Linked DNA regions of Homo sapiens: region 2 is linked to region 1. Evidence: fine-mapped expression QTL. Tissue or cell type: whole blood. Region 1 holds a variant in brackets; the other region holds the start of a gene. All regions are shown on one strand. Distances are between the middles of the regions.

Region 1 (10,728 bases):
CAAAAAGCAAGGCTATTTACTCAGACCTGGGCTACTAAGTGCTGGGGTGGCCCATGTTGACTTAAATGAGCCCTTGCAGTTAGGTGGGGCTCTCTGGAGCTGTTAGTCATGTGAGGTTGCCAGGGCAACTTAATGTCTTATGAGTTGGAATGCTTCAAGAAGTACAAAGAGGAGACTGCAAGAGTGCATTACAACTTACAGTCATATGTTCAATAACATGTCATCTTTCCTAATGGGGCTTTTATTTTTATTTTATTTTGTGGGATTGAAAGATCAGAAGCCGGAAATTATCTGGAGAGGATAAAGAAAAGGAAAAATTAAAGGAGGGGGCTATTTCTGTTCCTTATGTGGGCAGCGATTAAACAAGGAGAACATCTGGTCCTGGAGCGGGTCTCTGCAGCACTGCTTTTAATTACCCCGTCATTTGGTCTCATGCTAAATTAGTGACTGTGGGAGCAGCTTAGATCTCCAAACTGACAGCCCCGAAGAGCTCAACTCAGCCTGCCACATAGTCAGAGGGGAAACACGGAGCTTCCGGTTTCATATTTAAACCAGGGATTGACTCATAATTGTAGCTGTCAGGAGGGTGATGGAGACATTATGTAATCTGGTTCTTATGGCGATGTGTGTTTAAGGTTTCTGCTCTGTAAATTCCAGAGGAAATTTTGTGTCCATTGAGGGAGAGCTTGCTGGCTGCTCTGTGGTGTGCCCTGCAGGGTAATTACAGTGCTATTAAAGGTTCCTAAATCTGCCTGAATCCAAACATGAATGAATTTCCCCCTGAAAGGCCCTCCTGTTTTTCCATAGACTTTTAAATGTGGATGAGGTTAGGCGAAATCTGGCAAACTGCAAAGAGGCAGTATGCTGGCCCAATAGGGAAATGTAATAATGGCAAGCCATTCAGGTCCACAACTATTTTTTTTCTGGACCACATAGCTTCCCTTACTATTTCCCATCATTTCCAGTCTCAGAGATTCTGAAAGCGGACACCAGTTGCTTCTGGAAACAAAGGATGAAGCTGTGGATCATTAGTTCCATTTTCATGCTGCTTGTTACTTGCCTCTCAGAGGTTTCAGCACCTCTGTGGACTGGTGTAAGTTTGCAGGGCAGCCAGGGAAGGCTTGAGGCAGATCCAGTGTTTGCTGCCATCAAAAAAAAAAAAAAAAAAGAAAAAAAAAAAAAGAAAAAGAAAGTCAGATGAGGCTGTTTAATTTTAAACTAAAAAGAATGTGCTTTTAACTATTTTGCTTCAGGGAGACTTGTGGTATGATGTGATTGTTCTCTGTACCCAAGTAATATAAGTTTTGGCTGCATGATAAGAAGGATTCATTCATAGAGAATAGTGCTGATATTAGAAGAATAACAGTAAAGACAAAATAGAATTTTAAAGGGTGAATGGGAGTTATGGTGGTGGAGTGATGAGGACTGAAACCCTCAGACACCCCCTGATTGCTGATCTGGCTGACCCAGAGTTCTTGCATCTGTTTCTGTACTTTTCCTCTCTTTCTTAAAAAATCCCCAGTCCACCAGTACTTGGAGTGCTATACTTGGCCTTTTCATGACATCGCAGAAGACAATGGAATATAAAAAGTAGTTTTAGTCAAAATTAATAGCTACATGTGTAAAAATATGTCATCAAAATGCTGGCTATCATAGTCATCATCAATCAATCAATCATCATCATCTATATTGTAATTGATTGCAGTTAGGTGGTCTCTGTTGTAATCTCTATTTTTCTAGAAAAATGAACAATTGGGAGAATTGGATATTTGCCCGTTGGTCTTTGAAACATGGTACTGGGAGTGAGCAATGTTCACTTAGCAAGAAGATGGAAAGATCAGCACTTGCTTTCCTACCACGCCTTGGAAATTTTTATGTAAGGTCATCCTATAAGTAGAATGGCTTGTCTTACTATGGTGGACCACATTTGCATTTTAGCTTTGCTTACCTAGCTCCAGATATTCACCTGATATGAGAAAGTTATTTTAATGAAAATAATATATTTAATATGCTTGTGTATTTATACACATAGAAATGTATATTTAAAGGAACGATTAAAAATTACCCTTATTCTTTCACAACCTCAGGCTGTAAAATCTTTATTAGGAAATAGTGACAGTGTAACAACTTGATTTATTTTCTCCCACCAGGCTGAAGTTTTATATGAATATTATCCAGTCACTATAGCTTGGGACCTTATCATCTGACTGATGGATGATGCAGGGATGGATAATTTCATAAGTTGTCTAGCCAGAGTTTATTCATTTTTCTAGTCATTGAAATGAGAAGACTTGATATGACTCCTATTGAGATACTTTCAAAGGCAACCATCCTTGTAATGGATTTTCTCTGTCAGAAAATTAGGTATTGATTTGCCTATTTTTTTTTCCCTGTACTAGAACTTACCGACGGACTAAGGATTCCTCTTCCAATTAACCCATTCATGCCTGAGGTTGCAATTTTTGGAATTTTTGGAATCAGACCTTGGTGATGACCTTGAGCAGTAGGATATAAATAATTCCCACGTGCTTAGCATTCCAATAATGGAACACCAGGCTTAAATAGGTGAAGGGCCATTAGCTTATAGAAAACGATAATCGAAGACAACAAAACAGTATTATCCTGGGGGCTTAAAGAAATTAAACTGAGCATTGGATGCGGTCATCAATAGGACATTTCCCTTTCTTGTCTTTTCTGACTTCTCTATCCAACCACAGGCTTTCATCATTGAGAATGAAGTAGCCAGAAGGGATAATTACCAGAGATAATAACTTATCTTTGATTTTAAAACATTAAGGAATTTTTATTAAGATTTATTAATAAATACATTTAATTTAGTTTGATTAGAATTATAGCTTTAGCTTGGCCTAAAACTGCCCCACCTTTCTGGGATCCTCCCTTCAGTTTTCTGACTCTTGGGCCACATGTGTATTTAGTTCTGTGACAAAGAGCCCTGGCTCCTTCAGGCACGATGCCCACATCATCAAGGTTAGAGGCGATTATAACTGATATGGGTTGCAGTCTGTTCCTGTCCTTGTAAATTCCGGATTGTACTTGCTCACTCCTACTTTCTATCTTATCTTCTCTTCCTGAAGACCCATGCTGTGGACTTCAAGCTCCAGCATCAGGCACAAAGACAACAGCCTTACAAAGACTTTTTAACCAGCCCCCATTGTGTAAGTTCAAATCTCCATAATAAATCCACTCCTCCCAAGCAAAACACACACACACACACACACACACACACACACACACACTTCCTAATGGTTTTGCTTCTCCGATTGAATTAATATTACTAATATTAATGTTGTTATGCAGATATCAAAGACCTAGGTAGGATTGTCTCAAGCTCTATTCATTCCCTGTAGAAGTCCAAAGTCCTCCCTAAGTTTTCTCCAAATTCTGTGAAGTCCACATTTTCACGGTCATTTTTGGCACATCTAATTTGCACAAAAGACCCTACAAAGCACTTGTGAGTATAATGTATTTATTAAAACTTTTGGTGGCATGAGGAGACAGAAGTGCAGTTCATGTTGAAACAAAAATAATTTCAAATTTAACTTGACTCATCTTTATTTGTAAAATGTTTCTCCACTATCCCATCCTTAGCGAATAGATACCCTTCCCTCATCCTATAAAATCCCCAGCTTCACAACAGCTCCTCGGTGCCTCTCTCCTTCCCCTTTTTCTCTTCTGCTTTCTGTTTCTCCCAATACTCCCATCCTCTTGTTTTCAAGTGCAGAGAAGCTTAACTATCTCTCTTTTCTTTTATGCTAAGATTATTGTGGATGTACGTCCATGTCCTCAGGATCTAACCTTCTATTCCCGATGGCTATTGTTCCAAGTCAAATACTGTTGCAATAGTTAAGAAAACAAAAATGTTGCCTGGTTACAATGGTAACAGGAGCAGGAAGCATACATTTAGTGCTTACTATGATCCAAACTCCAAGGGCTCTTTATGTCTTGTCTCGTGAGATTCCTACAAAAATTCAGTGAAGCCTGGCATTATGAGTCCCATTTTAACAATCTTGAAATTAGATCATAGAAAGTAAAAAAAACACAAAAGCAACTACAAAACCTAATATTTATTGAGTTCTTATACATCAGGCACTGTTTTAAGCACTAAATGTGTTTTGTTTTTAAATTGACTCTTCACAACTCTACTAGTTAAAAAAATTATCCCCATTTTACAGATAAAGAAACTGAGACACAAAATTAGGCAATTTTCTCACAATAAATAAAAAGTGGTACTGTGTATGGAAACCAGGCTGCTTGAATCTGGAACTCAGAATACCGTCTGACAAGGTAAGAAGGTGTTTAAATGTTTCTCATGTAGTCAGTTTCCTAACTCAACTTCATGACACCTTTCCTGGCTGACCGAATATTTCAACCATCCTTACGTTTTATATTTTTCATCGCTGTTTAATTTTTTCTCCATGGTACTTAATACTGACACATATTTTACTTATTTATTTTTTTTAAATTTTCTGTCCCCACTACCAGGATGTAAACTCCGTGAGGGCAGGGACATTTCTGTCTGTTTTACTCACGATTGCATCTCCAGGGCTGATAGGAATGCCTTTCACATAGTAGATGCTCAATAAGTAGTTACTGAATGAATCAATAAATGAATATATGCATGTATGAAAAGCTGCTTACACAGAGGACAGGGCCTTCTTATTAGGTTTTGCAGATACGTCAGGAAAACCCCCTTTGAATGGAGTTTGAAAAAGCTCTAAATTGGTGGGCTTTAAATGTGATCAAACTCATGTTGGGAGACCTTCAAATACTGTGCTCATTTTCAGGCCACCTCATGTTCCCGTCTCTTCTCTGCCTCCCCTAGGTGTATGTGTTTAAATCTCTCCATCCTGGTTTAACAGCCTTCTCTGTGGGCCTATTCTCTAGAAAATTCTTTGACTTGCCAGTTTACTTTTCCCATTTATAAGATGGAGATAATTTTACTTCTAACAACTTCAGCAGGATTTGGAAGAGATCATTGAGATGATAGGAAACCAAACAAAGTATTGAATCTTGGGAAGACTCTGGCTATAGAAACATAAATGAAAATTAAGATAAAATCCTTTTAAAAAATTATTGTTAGAAATTACCTAGCATGTAAATTTAGAATTTTTTTGTGTTTGTTTAATGAGGAAGTTACTTTTTC[A/C]GTTTGATTTTCTATTTAGGTTGGTAAAATGTATTAAAATTGTATCATGAATTAACAGCAAAGATAATATCTACTTATTAATTCAACAAACATTATCAAACATTTTTTATGCCAGACACCATTTTAGTATTAAAACAGCAAAAATGTCAGTGAGAAAAACAGAACCCTGGATTCTTGTATCATTCACAGAGAGATGTTTTTTAGAGATTGGTTATTGTATTAGCTTGTTAGGGTTGCCATAACAAAGTACCACAGACTGGGTGCCTTAAACAACAAAAACTTAGTTTCTCACAATTTTAAAGGCCAGCCATCTGAGATCAAGTTGTCATCAGGGTTGGTTTCTCCCGAGGCTTCTCTCTTAGGCTTGTAGGCGGCCATCTTCTTTTTCTGTCTTAATGTGATCTTTCCTCTGGGCCCATCTATGTCCAGATTTCCTCTTCTTATAAGGATATCAGTCGTTGAATTAGAGCCTCACCTCAATGACTTTGTTTTAACTTCATCGCCTCTTTAAAGCCCTATCTCCGAATACGGTCACATTCTGAGGTACTGGACATTAGGGCTTCAATATATGAATTTTTGTGAGGACACAGTTTAGCCCATAGCACTTCTTGTATTGCCAAACTTTTTGGGTTTCATTTTACTTGTTTAAAATAACAGTGGTGCTTTCTATACATACCTGTTATTAACACATCACTTAGTGGTTTTCTTTCTTTATGAGTATTGCAACCAGGTGGAAATAAACCTAGCTTTGGGAGTGACAGTAATATTATCAGAGGTCCTAGATGGACCAGACTTTGATCAGCATTACACAAACCCACCTAAATGGACAAGGGAACTGTTTTCTAAGATTTAAGCTTTTTGGAAAATGAGTATTGTACAGCTGAGCATTTCTTAAAGGGACTACTATAATTATTGGACCATACTAAACTTTTGACTAGATGGAATTCAAAGTTAATTTTCCTCTGGCCAACCAATGTGTAGAAACTCGGAAGACAAGTTACAGGCAAAATAGAGGAGTTAGATCCCAGCACCATCATTATTGTTGTCAACATCATTTTTACCATGTCACAGTGGGTGCTTTTACTGTCTTTTCCTCTCCTTGTTCTACTTTCTTCCCAACAAGTTTGTGAGCTGCTTGTGGGTAGGAAGTAGTTTAAGACTGTTGTCCATGTCCATTTATGCTTTGCATGATGCTGGGCACAGAGCCGGGGCTTGGTAAGCACTCATTGACCAACTGCAAGCTGTTTGCTGAGCCTGACAGTCAGAGGAATGGTGGTGGAAGAAGGATAGTAGGGAAGGGCATAGTTGACTGGCATGGCACAGCGAAGAGTGAATCCGTAGGTGGTTATGGCACTCTTGGCCTTGATCCAGCTATTGATGGATGTCACTATGGAGTTCTGATGAGAAGAAAGAGATGATTTTGTAGCTGCATGAAAAATGAGCTTCAGAGCAGGATTTCTCCAGTTTTATGAAATACAGACTTGTCATGATCTGCAAAGGATGTGAATTATTAGTTTCTCCTCAGCTTTAATCCACACATCACCATAGAAAACGCAAATGGTGGCGAGTGGGTAGGGAGAGAAGTGGGATCAAAACCGAGTTTCCACTTATTTCCTCTGACAATGGTTATAGTAAAACATTCTGACTAGGAAAAGATTAATCTCCGTTTGCAAAATTAAAAAGAAAACAAAAAACATGTGGAAAATATTATGTTGATGCATGTTTTGCTGAACAGATGGTGACGGTCCACAAACTTCTCAAGGATTTCCCTTCGAGGATGAAAGGAGAGCATTTTAATTTGGCTGAGTAACCTAGAGTCACTGAATCTGTTATGATCTTGTCTGTCTCTTCTTACGGAAATCCTTTTTATTGCCAAATTATGGATTTTTCTTCCAATAATTTTTAACAAATTACTTTAATCTGGAATACCCAATTAGCACACAAATGTGATGTTTCTTTTTCTGCTAGTTTAGTGTTTTTCTACAGGGAACACCTTATCTTTGTATTTTTACATATTTATGATTCTCATTTTGAGTCCCTGAAAGCACATCAGCTATAATGTGGACTGGCCACTTATTCAAATATTTGTTTTACAGCTGGGGAAACCGAGGGCTGGAGGCTTCTGTGACCCTCCTCAACATTTCACAATGAGTCACAGCTGAAGAAACATTAGAAATGGATTTCTTGACTCTGAAGTCATTGACCTTTCACTAGCCTTTTTAGAAACTGTGATTCTTGATGTACTTGAACCTATTTACTTGTGTATTTTCTTTTTTTGTGCTCTCTCTCCTTTTTGAAGAGTCTAAAGAAGACATAGGGAAGAGATTTTCCTGTAGAGATCCCCCTGATTGCTGGTTTCCTTTGAAATGAAACCACAGCTTTTCAAGTAGAACTTCGCAGAGGTTTATAAGAGGAGTCTGCTACACAGCTGGAGGAGGAAGAGGAATGATTGGTTATTAATTTAGCACTGTCCTTATGTCATCAGTCATTTCTTCTATCGGGACATTTTCTTCACTAGAAAAGAAAAAAAACGTTAAAATTAAGGACAGCAAGCAGCGGCTGTTTACCATTGATTGAGGTTTGGAGACAGGTGTTTAGGATTTTATTTACTCTGCTGCTCCCTAATGACTGCGCTCCTGTTTCTTCTTTTTCTGAAAAAACTTTTTTTTTTTTTTTATTTTTCTGAGACAGCATCTCATTCTGTCACCCAGTGCTGGAGTGCAGTGGTGTGATCACAGCTCACTACAGCCTTGACCTCCTAAGCTCAAGCGATCTTCCCACCTCAGCCTCCTGAGTAGCTGGGACAAGAGGCATGCACCACCACACCCACCTAATTTATTTTTATTTTAATTTTTTTTGTAGAGATGGAGGTCGCACTGTGTTGCTCAGGCTGGTCTCAAACTCTGGGCTCAAGCTATCCTCCTGCTGCGACCTCCCAAAGTGCTGGGATTACAGGCTAGAGCCACCGCACTGGGCCTAAAAAACAAAAAACAAAAACAAAAATCTTAACGTATCTGTCCTCTATCTAGACTCATCTAGACTGCCTCCATGAGATAGGCGGCCTTACAGCGATCCAAGTGAATCTGGGCCGGTCTTGTTGATGCTGAGGTTCGGTACCTGGTGCTGATCAGGGAGAGATGACTTTAATCTGCATTGATTTGTAATTCCAATGTACTCCAAACCTCTGAATAGGCCTGGAGACTGTCACCTGGAGCTGCACTAGCTGGCTGATTCTTCTTTCCCTTATTTAATGATCCTTATGGATAATTGGAAGGTTGTCCTAAATACAATGGCCACTCTTCAATTATTGTACACATCCCTTTGGTCTTTATTTTCTGTTTTTATTTCTTCTCTCAAATATTCTTGCATACATTCACACTTTACTCCTATAGTCTCTACTGCAATTCATTGCTTAAAGCTTTCTAACACCAGGAGTAAAAGAAGAAAGAAATGTTCTGCTGCTATTAACATGAGCAGCTCAAAATAAATTTGGAGTGTGAGTGTATTAAAATCCAAACACTCTTATGAATCTCTCTTTCCGTCTCCAATTTAGAGTGAAATATCAGGAAGAAACGAGGAGAAAAGTAGTTGATTTATTAAGTAGTTCAGTAATGCAAGGTGGTTTGCACAGATCATCTCATTTAATCCTCACAACCCTGTGAAGTGATTACTATTATTAGCCTCATTTTGCAGACGAAGGGACTATTAGCTTGTCAGCTCTACTGAGGCAGTACTCTCATCTTTGTATCCCAGGGCCTGGCATGTGATCCTTAGCTCAGTGTTTAATAAGTAATTAATGAATGAGTGGCTGAATTCTCCCCAAATTTATCCATTTTGACCCCTGGATCTTTATCACACCTAGCTTTTCTTTTCCACCTTGTCTTTGAAGTCTTTCTTTCCTCCTTCACTATTTTCCGTTTCTCACCTCTTGCCAAAAAGAGCTTGAGGTGATTCGCAAATATATACATATGTATAAATATACATGTATTATTCAACACTATAAAAAAGAAATGAGGCAATCAGGGAGAGTTTGCACATGTTATTTTTTCGTCTCAGATTTAGCTTCACTTGCCTTGACAAAGAAATATCATTCAAGGTTTTTACTGCGGATTTTCTTACATTTAGACTAAATATATAAGTTGGTTTTCAAAGGTGCTGGCCACATATACTGTTCCCTTGTGTTGATATTTCAATGTCTTATGTCACCTGAGATGGCTTTGGTGAAACATTTCTAGCTGTCCTTCATACTACCCAGTTGCCAGTCAAAAATTAAGCAACTTATATGGGGTCAAAGTTTCAGGTAATTTACCCATCAGATGGTTGTATATTTTCAAACTGTGCTCCAAAGATCTCTGAAAGTTCCATAGAGTTAAGTCAGGACAAACTTGGAGGATAAATTAAGCTCAGACATTGAATAGGGCTCTGGGTTCCATGTCTTTACTTCAAGCAGAGAATCTTTATTTTTATCCTTTTTGTATTTGGGTTCTCTTTTGAAAATTTATTTTCAAAATAAGGATAAAAAGCCACAACTCTACCACTTTATTCCATTTTTATTCATGTCTCATTAAATGTCCAAATCATTAGACTAAGTCCAACATCATGTATTACCTAGTTCTGTTTTCTTTAGAAGCTTTGAAAAATCCATTTCATCCTCTTCCCTTTTATCCAGTATTCAAATATATGCTGACTCTGTAATTTTTCTGTGTCATCTTTTTAATGCCTGGCTTAAAAAAAAGAAGACATGCAAGTGAAATCAAGAAATGACTCAGAGGCCAACATTTATTTAAGGAATTCCTGAGAATGTACTATGTGGTCTGCAGAGACATATGCACATTATACATAATGCACTTGGACTCTCTAAGGTAACTGGAGGTCTTAAAGGCGTAAAATCTAAATATCTTGAAATTAAAACAAAACTCCAGAGCTGCTCCACTTTTAGGTATCAATGGCTCCTGTCTGAAAGGAATTGAATTTGAGTGCTTTTGTGTTGGTCCTGAGGACGAAGGTATTGGTTTCTTAGAAAGTCCATCTATGGTAAAGTATCGCTTCCCTCCCTCTGATCGACAGTCTTGTGTCTCAGTCCTCTTTGTCTCAGGTAATTGATTAGGTTGTCAGTACTTTGCAAATATCTTGCTTAGCCCCAAATACCAACTGCTCTCCACTTGTTTCCTTCCATTTAATTCTCTCGTCTTAAACAACCAACATAGTTTAATTAACCTCATCTTGACTTGCGACAAACTATAAATAAGCTATATTTTCCATGGGTTCCTAGAAGGTCCAGGGCAATAGACTTAGGGACACCCCTGGGAATTTTATAGCAAGATAACCTGGAACCTGTGAGGACAAACAAAAAACAAAAACCAAACTCCATGGTGAGAATAACTAGATTCGGGGAAAACAAAAACAACAAAACAAAACTCCAGAGGGATATGAACTTGCAGCCTGTTTGGGCAACAGGTTCCTAGTTACACATTTTTCAAAACTGTAAAAATTAAGCAAGAAACTCCTTCCACATTGTGGACTATATATACTAGCAAAACCAGCTGTAAAAGCATTCTGAAACT
Region 2 (10,728 bases), 190 kb before region 1:
GAAAAGCAGGCTTGTCTTTACCAATCATTTCCCCAAACTGGGTAAGACTAGTCAAGTTCAAGTTATACAACACCAGAGAAAAGGCTAAATTGTTACACTTTCCCCTTAGGCAGTTCTCAGTCACCAACAGCTGCAGTATAAAATCACGGAATCTGCTGCTGTTTACCCTTTCCTGATCAATTTCACTTCTTTATCCCTAGTCAGTTCCTCACCCTTGGCACTAATGTGGAACCATGGGGGAAAGGGAGAGCAATTTAAAGACTTAAAACTGATAAACAGCTGGAGATACATATTCCTAAATTTTGAGCTTCCTATGCCAAAAAAGACAGACACACAAATGTCTACCTTCTTGTGGATATAACACGGGTCTTCAGATACACCACATAACTCAGAGGCCAAGCACATCCAAACATCCCAACAGCACTTTAGGACAGTTTTTAAGCCTGATCTAAGTTATTTCTCAAACTTGCAGAAACAAAACATGTCAAAAATGAGGCCAATTTTTGTCTTTTCTTAAAAAAAAAGGTAAGCCTTCTTAAACGGGTAATAATTTACTTTTCCCATACTCTTTTTCGGCCTTTTTTTCTAATACAGCTAATGATCTCAAATGCATAAATTCAGAGAAAACAAAAAAATGAGGTAATGAGGCTCCATTAATTCAACCACATTTGTAGAGCATTTGCCATCAAGCACTGTGCTAGGCATACAAACAAAAGTAGGGAATTACAGAATAGCGGTCATAGAAATAAGTAAATAATCACAATATTATATGATTTTAAAACTAATATACATATGTACGAAGTACAGAGGCAACATAGAGGGACAGAGTGTTGAAAGAGGGGAAGAGAGAAGGTCTTTTGGGGAAAAATGACAAATTTACAAAAGTTTGTAAGGAGAGGAATTCTAGGTATGGTATCATAATGTGTTTAAAATATATAATTCAGGATCATAAAGTTTTAAGTGAGAAAGCAGAGGGAAATTAAGTTGAAGCAAGTATGCAGTCATTTAGCTGATTTTTACACAGGCCAACTGAATAATAAGCAAATTTTTATATTATGTATACACCACATCTATATAAACAAACATTAGATGGCTTAATATTACACAGCTTTCCAGTGCTTCCATTTATTTCTAGAATGTTTTCCAATTTTATATATATATATATGTGTGTGTGTGTACATACATATACATACGTAAAATGTATGGGGTGAACATATGTTTATTTACACTTATCAAAAATAACTCACCACTGGGTATATTTTTTATGAGGCACTAAATGATATAACCATAAAAATTTGCTTTCTATTTACGGAAAAACAGTTCAAACTCAGATTACAACATAGTACGTTTATCATACATGGTCTAATTCTAGTTAACCTAATTCCAAAATCTAATATAATCCCAACTTGCTATTAGAAAGCCTAATACTGACACAGGAAGTGTTTCTGGCTAACGTGAACCTAATAAGCCAAATGCTTATTATTTCAGCTACTTCACTTCTCCAAATGTTTTGGCCAAATTGACAAAAGGACATGCAGTGCTATATACACTCAATACCAAAGGACAAAGACTCTTAAGTATTATATAATATGCCTTTAAATGTTTAAAACTCTATTTAGAAGGCTAATTCAATAATGTAAAATATGGTACAGTTATATCTATCGGAAACATTTGACTGGAGTATTAAACAGTCTCTGTGCAAATTACCTACAAAACAAACATGTATGTGGCTATTTCCTCTACTATTTATAACACAAATTCTTTTGCTCTAGAGTATGTTTACTATTTTTGAAAAGTAAGATTTTTAAACATAAATGTGAAACAATCTAAGAAATGCTTTATTCTAATTTATTTCTTCCTTACTTGGTTTGGCATTAAAGCAAAGCCCTACACATAACAGATCCCCCACTAATTCTTGATTAAATATATTCTCACAGTCAGCCTAGGAGTTATCCATTTCTCTACATAAAACTTTAATTTCAAATAATAAGCATGTACTCGAGGATTTCAGAATGAGGCCCTACTGGATTTTACCACAATGGCTATCTAGAAAGGGTTAATGGTTTCCCAGGAAACTGGTGATTTTCACTTTTCTTGAAGGTTGAAATCAGGTGAAAAAGAAACTAAAGAATGTTAAAAATAGTCCCTACTGTAATTAAATCCCTATGAGCAATGGCTTTAAAAAAGAGAAAAGGGAAAAAAATGTAAGGCCCAAATAAAATCCATGTTACAGGGCAGTTTTAAACTGTGCTAAGGCCTTAATGGCTTCTGCCATGATACGTATCTTTCTTCATAATGACTATAAATAATAAATTTCCATTTCAAAACGGTTCACCTATTAAAGATGAGACATAAATTACTATATTAAAAGCTACATTCCAAATAAGTTCACTCTGTGGTTTATCTAATGCACAAGCAAACAATGCTGGCTCTAGTAAAACTGATTATCAGATGAACACATTATTTTCTAATATAATAGAGTTTTTTAAAGTAAAACCCCCAAGATTTTGTTCCCATGAAGAGTTTACCAAAATATTATGCTAAATATTATTATCGCCCTGCCCAAACTTAAAAAGTATTACAAAGCTCCTAGGGAATAATTTATTAATAAAGCAGGATAAATTTGTGAAAAAACGATTTTAAAAGTCTGGGTGAGTGAGATAATTTCCAAGTTGTCCCATACTAAGTACATTTAGATGAAAAAAAAATATTTAAAGCAATCCTCTCACTGAAGATTGCCATCGGTGTTTCAAATATCAACATCTTGGGGATTAAATCACTGGGAGTATTTTCTCAATTTACTGTAATAGCAGTGGAACGCACTATCACTATACAAAAAAACCTGTTGTCTCAATTTATTTATGGCAAGTATTTAAAAAAATGGCCATTTAGAAAAAATATATTTTACTTGTGTTAATTCACATTCCATCATCTGCTTTTTTTATTAGCTGCAACCAGAAGGAAACAAGGAGATATTCACTGCTTTAAGAAAAAAATTAAACTGGTAAGAAGTCTTTTCCCATCTCTAAAAGAAAACTTAACATTTTTAATCCAAACTTTTTGAAAGATACCAATAAAAGTTACCGTCATTCGGTTCAGCATTTTTAGCAGTTCTTCTCCTAAATAACCATTATCTGAGATAGACTTCTTGATCTCCCTCAAAGTAGGTCTAATCTGCAGAAGGCAGGGAGAGACTGTACTGCACTCTGAATGGACAGCCAGGTATTTTATGAATGGAGGCGATCACGTGATCCCAGCACCTCCCCGAACTGATATTTCCCACATAACTGTGTCAACATTCTCAGAACAGGGGTAGTTGTTTGTGTGTGCGTATGTTTTTAAATTTAACCTAAAATTTCACATTCTTCTTACCTTCTGAACTCAAAAATCTACACACAGACAAATAAGCCGCGAATTTTTTTTCTTGGGAAATCCTTTCAAGATGTCCAAGGTGATGGATGTTTAATTATTTTTTTTATGAATGAAGAGTGTGCTATGCAAATGAGGGCGATTCACAAAAAGAGACAGAACATGGCTGCCACTTCTGCTTCTACACTGCACTGACACTGCAGCAATGTACCTCCTTCTACACCCGCTCAGCAGAAGCGTGTGTTTTGGGGTGGGGAGGGAGTAAGGGAGGAGGAAATGTTGTTTGGCCTTTCTCTAGCTATTTTACGTTAAACAGGACTCGGTACAGACTTTAAAAAGTTATTTCAAAAAGGTCTGACTTTAGTAATGCACTGTATTTAAAGGAATGCATCCAAATGACTAAGTCCTAACTCACTTAACTCTTTCCAACCCTCCGAAGATAAACAAAAGTTGAACTTAATTACAAGAAAACGGATGCTAATATTCTGCTTGGAATTAAATCCCTTCTCAATAGAAAAGTGTTGCCAACCATTATTTCTCCACGCAGCTGTCACGTTAAAGCAAAACATTTAAAAGACGAAGTATTTCGTTTGGAAAGCAAGGAGAAAGCCCAAATAAGCTAAAACTTAAACCGGAATGCTCTAAAAGTTAATGAAATCACCAACATATTCAGCAATGTAAATTCGGTTACATCAACGTAAATCATGTGTTTTCACATAGCTGAAAGGTAAAAATTAGCATTCAAAATTCTTCTCCGTTCCTGAAGACACGTCCAATATTCACAAAGGTAAACTCTAGCTCAACATCGCCCACACTCCAGGTGTCCTTAATCCTATTAAATTCTAAAAATGTTTCCCTAACCCTATTTTTTACAAGAATCTTACAGGTCATAAGTTTAAAAGGGGGAGGGGGGAGAGGGTGAAGGCTTAATCGGTATTTAAGAGTCACTGACTCATCGAATTAAGATTCAAGAGCAGTTTGCTGCAGGAGGTGCTCCCACACATTAGTTTCCAAGTGAAACAGCTATAAAGGAAGTAGGATGGATACTGAAGGTATGGTGACTGGTATGTGAGTGAAAAAGGACGGGACAGGGGTCTCACAGGCAAAGGGGTAGTTTCTACTCCACTTCCATCCATCCACATTATTCCCTCTCATAGACGTACAATTGCCATCCTCTCCCAACACTTAATCCCCTACCCCAAAAGAAAGCAGCTAAATGTGGGAGGATGGGGAGGGGTGCTGCCACTAAAAATGGCTAAAGAAATCAGCTATCTCCAGAAGATGCACCGAACTCTCCAGGGTCGCAAGCTTTCCGGCACCCAAGTTTCGGATGGGTCTGGGGGAGAGCCGAGGGCGGATAGGGGGAGGGGGATTAGCAATCGAGATCAATGAGGCGCTTACTCGTTGTCAGAAGTCGCCGTCTCCTCGCTCATCTTTCCCTCACCGTGATCCGATCTGGAGATGGAGGAGCAACAGCAGGCGGGGGAGCAACAGCAGCACCGAGGGGCAGGAGGCAGCGGCGGCCGGGGGGGCGCGGGGGCAGCGGCACAGGGGCCTCACCATGGTGGATGCCTCACCCAGAACGGTACCCCCCCAGCCGGGAACCCCGGCCACCCCCGCAGGGGGGTGGCGGCAGCAACCTCCGCCGTGGCGACCCCAGCCTCTTCCCCCGCCTCAGTGCCCAGCCAAGGGATCCGAGGAGGCCCGGTGGAAAGGGAAAAAGAGAGGGGCTGCAAAGGCTGACTGGAGAGCTGCTCCTCCAGCCACTGGGGTGGAGCGCAGCGGGGTCCGGCCAGGAAGGAGTCGGCGGGCGGAGAACCCGGGAGCAGAGGCGGCGCTTCCCTCAGGGATGCGGCGAGGAGGAAGCAGAGCTCCGCTCGGTGGGGGCCGGCGGGGGGGTGCCGAGCCCAGGCTCCGGGCAGCGGCGGCGCGGTCCTGCCGGAGCCCACCCCACCATCTCCCGCCTCGCCGCCGGCTGCCCCTCAACCCCCGGCGGCGTCTGGGTCGGTCCTCAGGCGCCGGCAGAGCAGGGCTAGGGGCCCCGCGGCGGCGGATTCCTCCAGACACGCTCCAGCCGGGACTCCTCCTCAGGGGGGTGGAGGGGGCGGCGGGGAGCGTGTGAGGCGAGGGGCAGGCAAACCGATCGTTCCCACCCGGCCGGAGAAGAGCGGGCGGGCCCGGGTCCGGGGGGCAGGATCCCGAGAAGCGGCGGGAGAGGACAAGAGCGGCTGCAGGTTCCCCGCCAGCCAGTGCCCACCAGCAGCTCAGCGGGCCAGCTCCTCACGCCCGAGAGAGGGGAGCCGCGAGGGGGGCGGCGGAAGCGCTCACGCCGCCCGCTCCTTCCGCCGCCGCAGCCGCTGCCCGAACCGGGGGCGCCCGCGAGAGAAGGAGGCGAAGTAGTCCCTCGCGACTTCTCCCGGCCGCCCGCTTTCCCCGGAGGCCAGAGCGGGCGCGGGGTGGGGCTGCCGAGCGGGGTGCCCAGGCTGTGAGGGTGTGTGGGTAGGACTAAAAGCCGCGGCCTCCGGGCGAATCACTGCAACTCGAAGTCATGTGCAGCATAGCAAGTTTCAGGAAAGTAGTTCCCTCCTCCCTTCATTTCCCAAATCGTTGTCGAGCCACTTAGCGGAGAAAGGGGGAGGGAGGCGGAGGGATATCCTCCCTGCACCGTGCTCGGTGTGCGTGCGCGCGCTCCAAACTCTTGGCACGCCGCGAAAGGGGGCGGGGGTGGGAGCTGCGAGGGGAGCTGCTAGGGAGGTTGCATTGTTGTGGCGCGTTACTCCCCGTTACTCTGCTTGGAATATCCGGGTTGCTTGAACGAAGAGGCTAGAAAGACAGTGTGCTCAGAGGGGAAATCTGGAGGCTACTCTCTTCTGCCGTGTGTGTGTGTGTGTGTGTGTGTGTGTGTGTGTGTGTGTGTGTGTTTTCTTTGCAGAGCAAAGAATGGAACTGGCATGAGTTCATCTTTAGTTAGTGGGGGTTAGAAGCAGGGACTGCAAAGAGAGCTCCTCCTGCTGTCCCCCTGGTTGCACTGCTGCAGTCCCCTAGCTGCATGCACGAAGTGTATGTGTGTGTGTGTGTGTGTGTGTGTGTGTGTGAGAGAGAGAGAGAGAGAATATGAGAATGTATGTGTGTTTTAACACCTCGCCTCGCTGCCTGGATTCTTACTGCGCAAGGGGTATGCTATCAGGGCATTCATCTCGGAAAGCTGGAGTGATTGTTAATGGAGAACGACTTCCATTGAAGCCCAGGGTAGGCGTGTTACATGAATCTGGCGCAGCCAGAACGGAGGAAATAACTCCCGCTGCGAGTGAGGTTGCATAACTATAGCGCAGGAGATGCTTCTGTGGCACGAACTGCTCTGAACGGAGGCGGACCGATTGGATAGACAGCTGTCACGAATGCATTGTTAGAAGACAAAGTATGCATTCATCTCAAAAGATTTTTGCACAGAAACCTACTGGGGTTGCGGGCTGGAGCCTAAGGTCAGCCCAGCCACAGGAGTCAGAGCTCCTGGCTCTGCAAATTCTATTATCTGTTCTCCACTTAGAAAACCAGCCTGTACATGAACCACCTTAGGGGACTGAATCCCAAGTGCTCCCAAGTTCCTGACGCATCTTCCCAGATATAAGTCTCGCCCTGCGTGCAATGTTTTTCTCTTCCTTCTCAGATTTGTGCGACCTAAGAATGAAGGTTGCCGCTGGTGCCACATTAAAGAGAACAATTCCCGAGGAAAAAAAGAAGTTGGGAGAACCTCGTTAACAAGGCAGCACTCCTCTTCTACCATCCCTCTCCAGGAATCGCAGGATTGTTGTTCTGAGAATGAGCGTGCACAGTAGTGCACTGTTAACAGTGTTTTGCACGTAGCAGGTGCTTAATAAATGTTTGACGAATGAACAGAGGCGCTAAACCAGTCAATGTACCCAAAAAACCATCCCATTGATTTCTGAGGTCTCTTTATGTAACTTGATTCCTGCCTCAGCAGCAGCATTGTCCTTACTCTTGAGAAAGAGAGGGGCAATGTTGATGATGGTCTGTGCTAGACATGACCTCTAAACCTGCCTTTTTGAACTTATTCTTGCCAAGAACTTATACATGGGAGTGTTGATACTGGCCTCTTCCCCTTCCAGGACTACTGTTAACCAGTTAGGCTGCTCAAGTTTCAGTCAAGTACCATCAGTTATAATCTGTGTTCTTATCCAAGTTACTGAAACTCTGGGCCTGCATAAAATGGGGATAATAGTACTTAACTTACACAGCTGTTGTGCTGATGAACGAGATAATAATATACAGAGTTACTTAGAACAGATTAAGAATTCACAGTAAGAATAAGTCCTAGTTCTTACTACTGTTTTGTCAGAGATAGTAATAAACTTCATGGCAAAATAGTGGCAGATGCTCTGAGGATTAAATGTAAAGCATTCAATATTCTTGTTCATGCATTCAACAAATAACTATCAGTTGCTAGACACATGGCCTGGTCCTTAGTAAGCCATTAATAAATGAAACTATCACAGTTATTATGATTAAGTAAATAGAAGGAAAGTCGGTCATTTGCAAAGGCCTTTATCTTTTGAAGATTTGCATCTGTTTGAGGTTCTAGTGTATCAAGGAAATTGTCAGTATAGTCTTTGGAAGAATCTTGGTTGTCATGAGCCAGGCACTGTGCTGGCTATTTCCACATTCCACATACACCACACACTGCTTACATAAAGGGAGCAAGATGTGATCAATAGCCCAAATTAATGCTTTAAAGATTGCTCTCAACTCCACGACCAAGACATAGTCAGCAAACCATCCACAGCCTTTGGTGGTCCTATGCCATTTCTAGAACACTTTTGTGCCCTTTTTTCAACAACGCATTTGTAGTTCTCTCACCCAGTTGTTAAAGATCTCACCAACTTTTTAAAAATTTGCTTTGGTTTAGCAGAGCTCAGAGTCTTCTACTCTGAAGCAGTCAGAAATGGTGCTACTGCTCAGAGCCAAGGGATCTTCTAGTCTGACTGTCAATCACTGGCTGCTCTATACTCAGGAGGCCTCGACTTATCTATCCGGGTGTCTGGACCTTAAGAGTAAAGAGACGTACCAACCAAAGACAATGTGTGAGATCTTATTTGGATCGTGACTTAAATATTTTTAAATTTGGGACAACTGGAGAGATTTGAACATTAACTGGAGATTTGATGAAAACAAGGAATTTTTTTTAAGTATTGGTTTATGGCAACATTTTCTTCAAGTCCTTACCTTTCAGAGATATGTACTAAAATATTTACAGATGAAACGTTATGCTTCAGAATAATCCACTGGGGTGAGGAGTAGGAAGAATGGGTAAGGATATAGATGAAACAAGATTGGTTATAGATTAATGATGAATACATTCTCTTTACTATTTTATAATTTAAAATGTTCTATAATAATTTTTTTAAAATACACTGCAAGTACTTAAAATGCAGATTCCTAGACCCCAGCTCAGAAATTGTGATCACTAGGTCTATGATGGGGCCATGCTTTTGTAAGTATGCCAGGTGCTTGGCCCTTTTTAGTCCTTCATCATCTACTCCCCCTTTCCTTAAAACCATTTTTGTCATCCTGTCTCCCAGCACATCCGTGATTGAAAGCTGTGTTCCAGCTAAACACAAAAAAGGGTGGCCAGTGGTATATCATAAGCTTAGATAGACACTGGTCAAGGCCAGAGGGATAGTTCAGTTAGGAAAGGGGATCCAGCCAGATGTGAGAAGCTAAATACAGATCACAGTTTTGTCTTAAGCTCCAACTCCATTCAGTTGGTACTAATCAAGAAGAATTCTATGGCCACATTCGGGCTCAGCAAGAAAGGAGATACTTATATTTGCTCAGTTGTGTTTTCTAGGTAGCCCTGTGGGAAGGAAGCTAGTCACAATAGCTGGTTATCACAAGTGACTATCTGTATTATTGTCCTCAGCTTTAGGAATTAGCCACAACCATTTAATGACCTGTTCGAGGTAATTAATTATCAATAGGATCCATGGGCCAAAGAGGGAGGAACAAGAGAACAATTGCCAAGTAATTGCCAGTATAGGATATGATCCAAGTTAAGAAGGTACAAGTGGATTCTGAGTTCCATGTAGGTATCAGGCCAGGGTTTATTCACAAGGACAGCAAAAAGTAGGCTGTCCTCACTGAGACACTGGCAGATGGCATGCTATTTTCCTATTCAAAGTTTCTTTTCTTTTTTTCACATTGCTCAGCCCATAGTAATCATCTTTCTTATGAGTTCAGAATTGGTCTTCTCAGATTCTTTTATTTTTGCCTTTGCTGTTTATACTTGTGTTGATAATTATTATTTTTGCTGATTCATTTTTTATGAGTTTATATTTGTTTTCCCAATTAAATTTTAGTGACTTGAAGGTAGGGGCTGCCCTTTATATTTTTTGGCATCCTTTTTAGCAGTGGTCGTAAGTAATAGAGGCTTTTTAGGTAAAATACTATACCAGAGCCTTGACTATATATAAAAATGAAGCTATACTGACTGGCACTGGAGTTGAAATCAGGAATCCCCTCTGGCTTACTATTGGGACTTAATACTATTGCAGTTTAGCATTTCACATACACTGTGCCTTGCACCAGAAGCTCTCATCAGATATTTGTATTCTTGAGAAGCCAAAAGAGGAGACAGCCATGCCAACATATGAGGTTCTAAAAGTACATAAAATACAAGTGCATATTTCCATTTCTAAAATTACCCTTAACATTACTCCTTAGCAGATGTTATTAAAATTTTGTTTTTTAAAACTGTAGTTAATGTGTGCCTTGATCAATCGGAACTTCCTATTTTCATCATGTACTTTGTTTAATAAATGATTTTTTTTCTTTAGTTTAACCAGTCTCTTGGCTAATGAGCCCTGCCTCTCAGTGGAATTACTAAGTGGTAACCATGTTTCTAAATAGTTTCCTTGCCTCTGGCATGAGTCTGCTTCCCCATCACTAGGATTCCCATGTTCTTCCAAACTAATGCAAAGTATAAAGGATAAGTATGCTGTTTTCCTTTTTTCCCTAAGGACGGCAATTGTTGGTTTGGCAGTATCCGGTGAGTGTGTAATCAGTTTACTTTTAATGCTATAACTGCCTTTTACAGGAAGTTTCCACAAGATTAGGATGAGTACAAGGGAAATGAGCAGTCTGCAATTTCCTTTATTTTCTGTATAATCTTAGCAGGGAGGATGCTTACCAGACCCCACACTACTAAATAAAGCACTTACCATTATTCTCCCAAATGGCTTTAGCATGCTCATTCTTTAACGGTTATGTCCCACTACAACAAATATGAAGGACTGAAATACCCATCATAAAATAATCCAAGGCCACGTGCAACACAAATTTAGT

The links. PIP is the estimated chance that this variant, and not a neighbour inherited with it, causes the effect.
Region 2: it holds the start of SPRED1, and the variant in region 1 is fine-mapped to the expression of SPRED1 in whole blood (INTERVAL, PIP 0.92).

The regions. Positions count from the first base shown.
Region 1 is chr15:38,059,055-38,069,782 of GRCh38, reverse strand. It overlaps LINC02345 (long intergenic non-protein coding RNA 2345), which reads right to left. Exons shown (of 4, transcript NR_120330.1): 3 at 9,773-9,888; 4 at 7,443-7,592. It overlaps LINC01852 (long intergenic non-protein coding RNA 1852), which reads left to right. Exons shown (of 3, transcript NR_147201.1): 3 at 1-971. Among named protein-coding and RNA genes, the nearest start is that of LINC01852, 8.6 kb to the left of the region's middle. The variant A/C (reference allele first, on the strand shown) is at 5,165.
Region 2 is chr15:38,247,260-38,257,987 of GRCh38, reverse strand. It overlaps SPRED1 (sprouty related EVH1 domain containing 1), which reads right to left and starts at 5,152. Exons shown (of 7, transcript NM_152594.3): 1 at 4,771-5,152. The coding sequence starts at 4,802. RefSeq lists silencers at 4,943-4,992, 5,003-5,062, 5,243-5,342, 5,443-5,492, 5,503-5,802 and 2 more.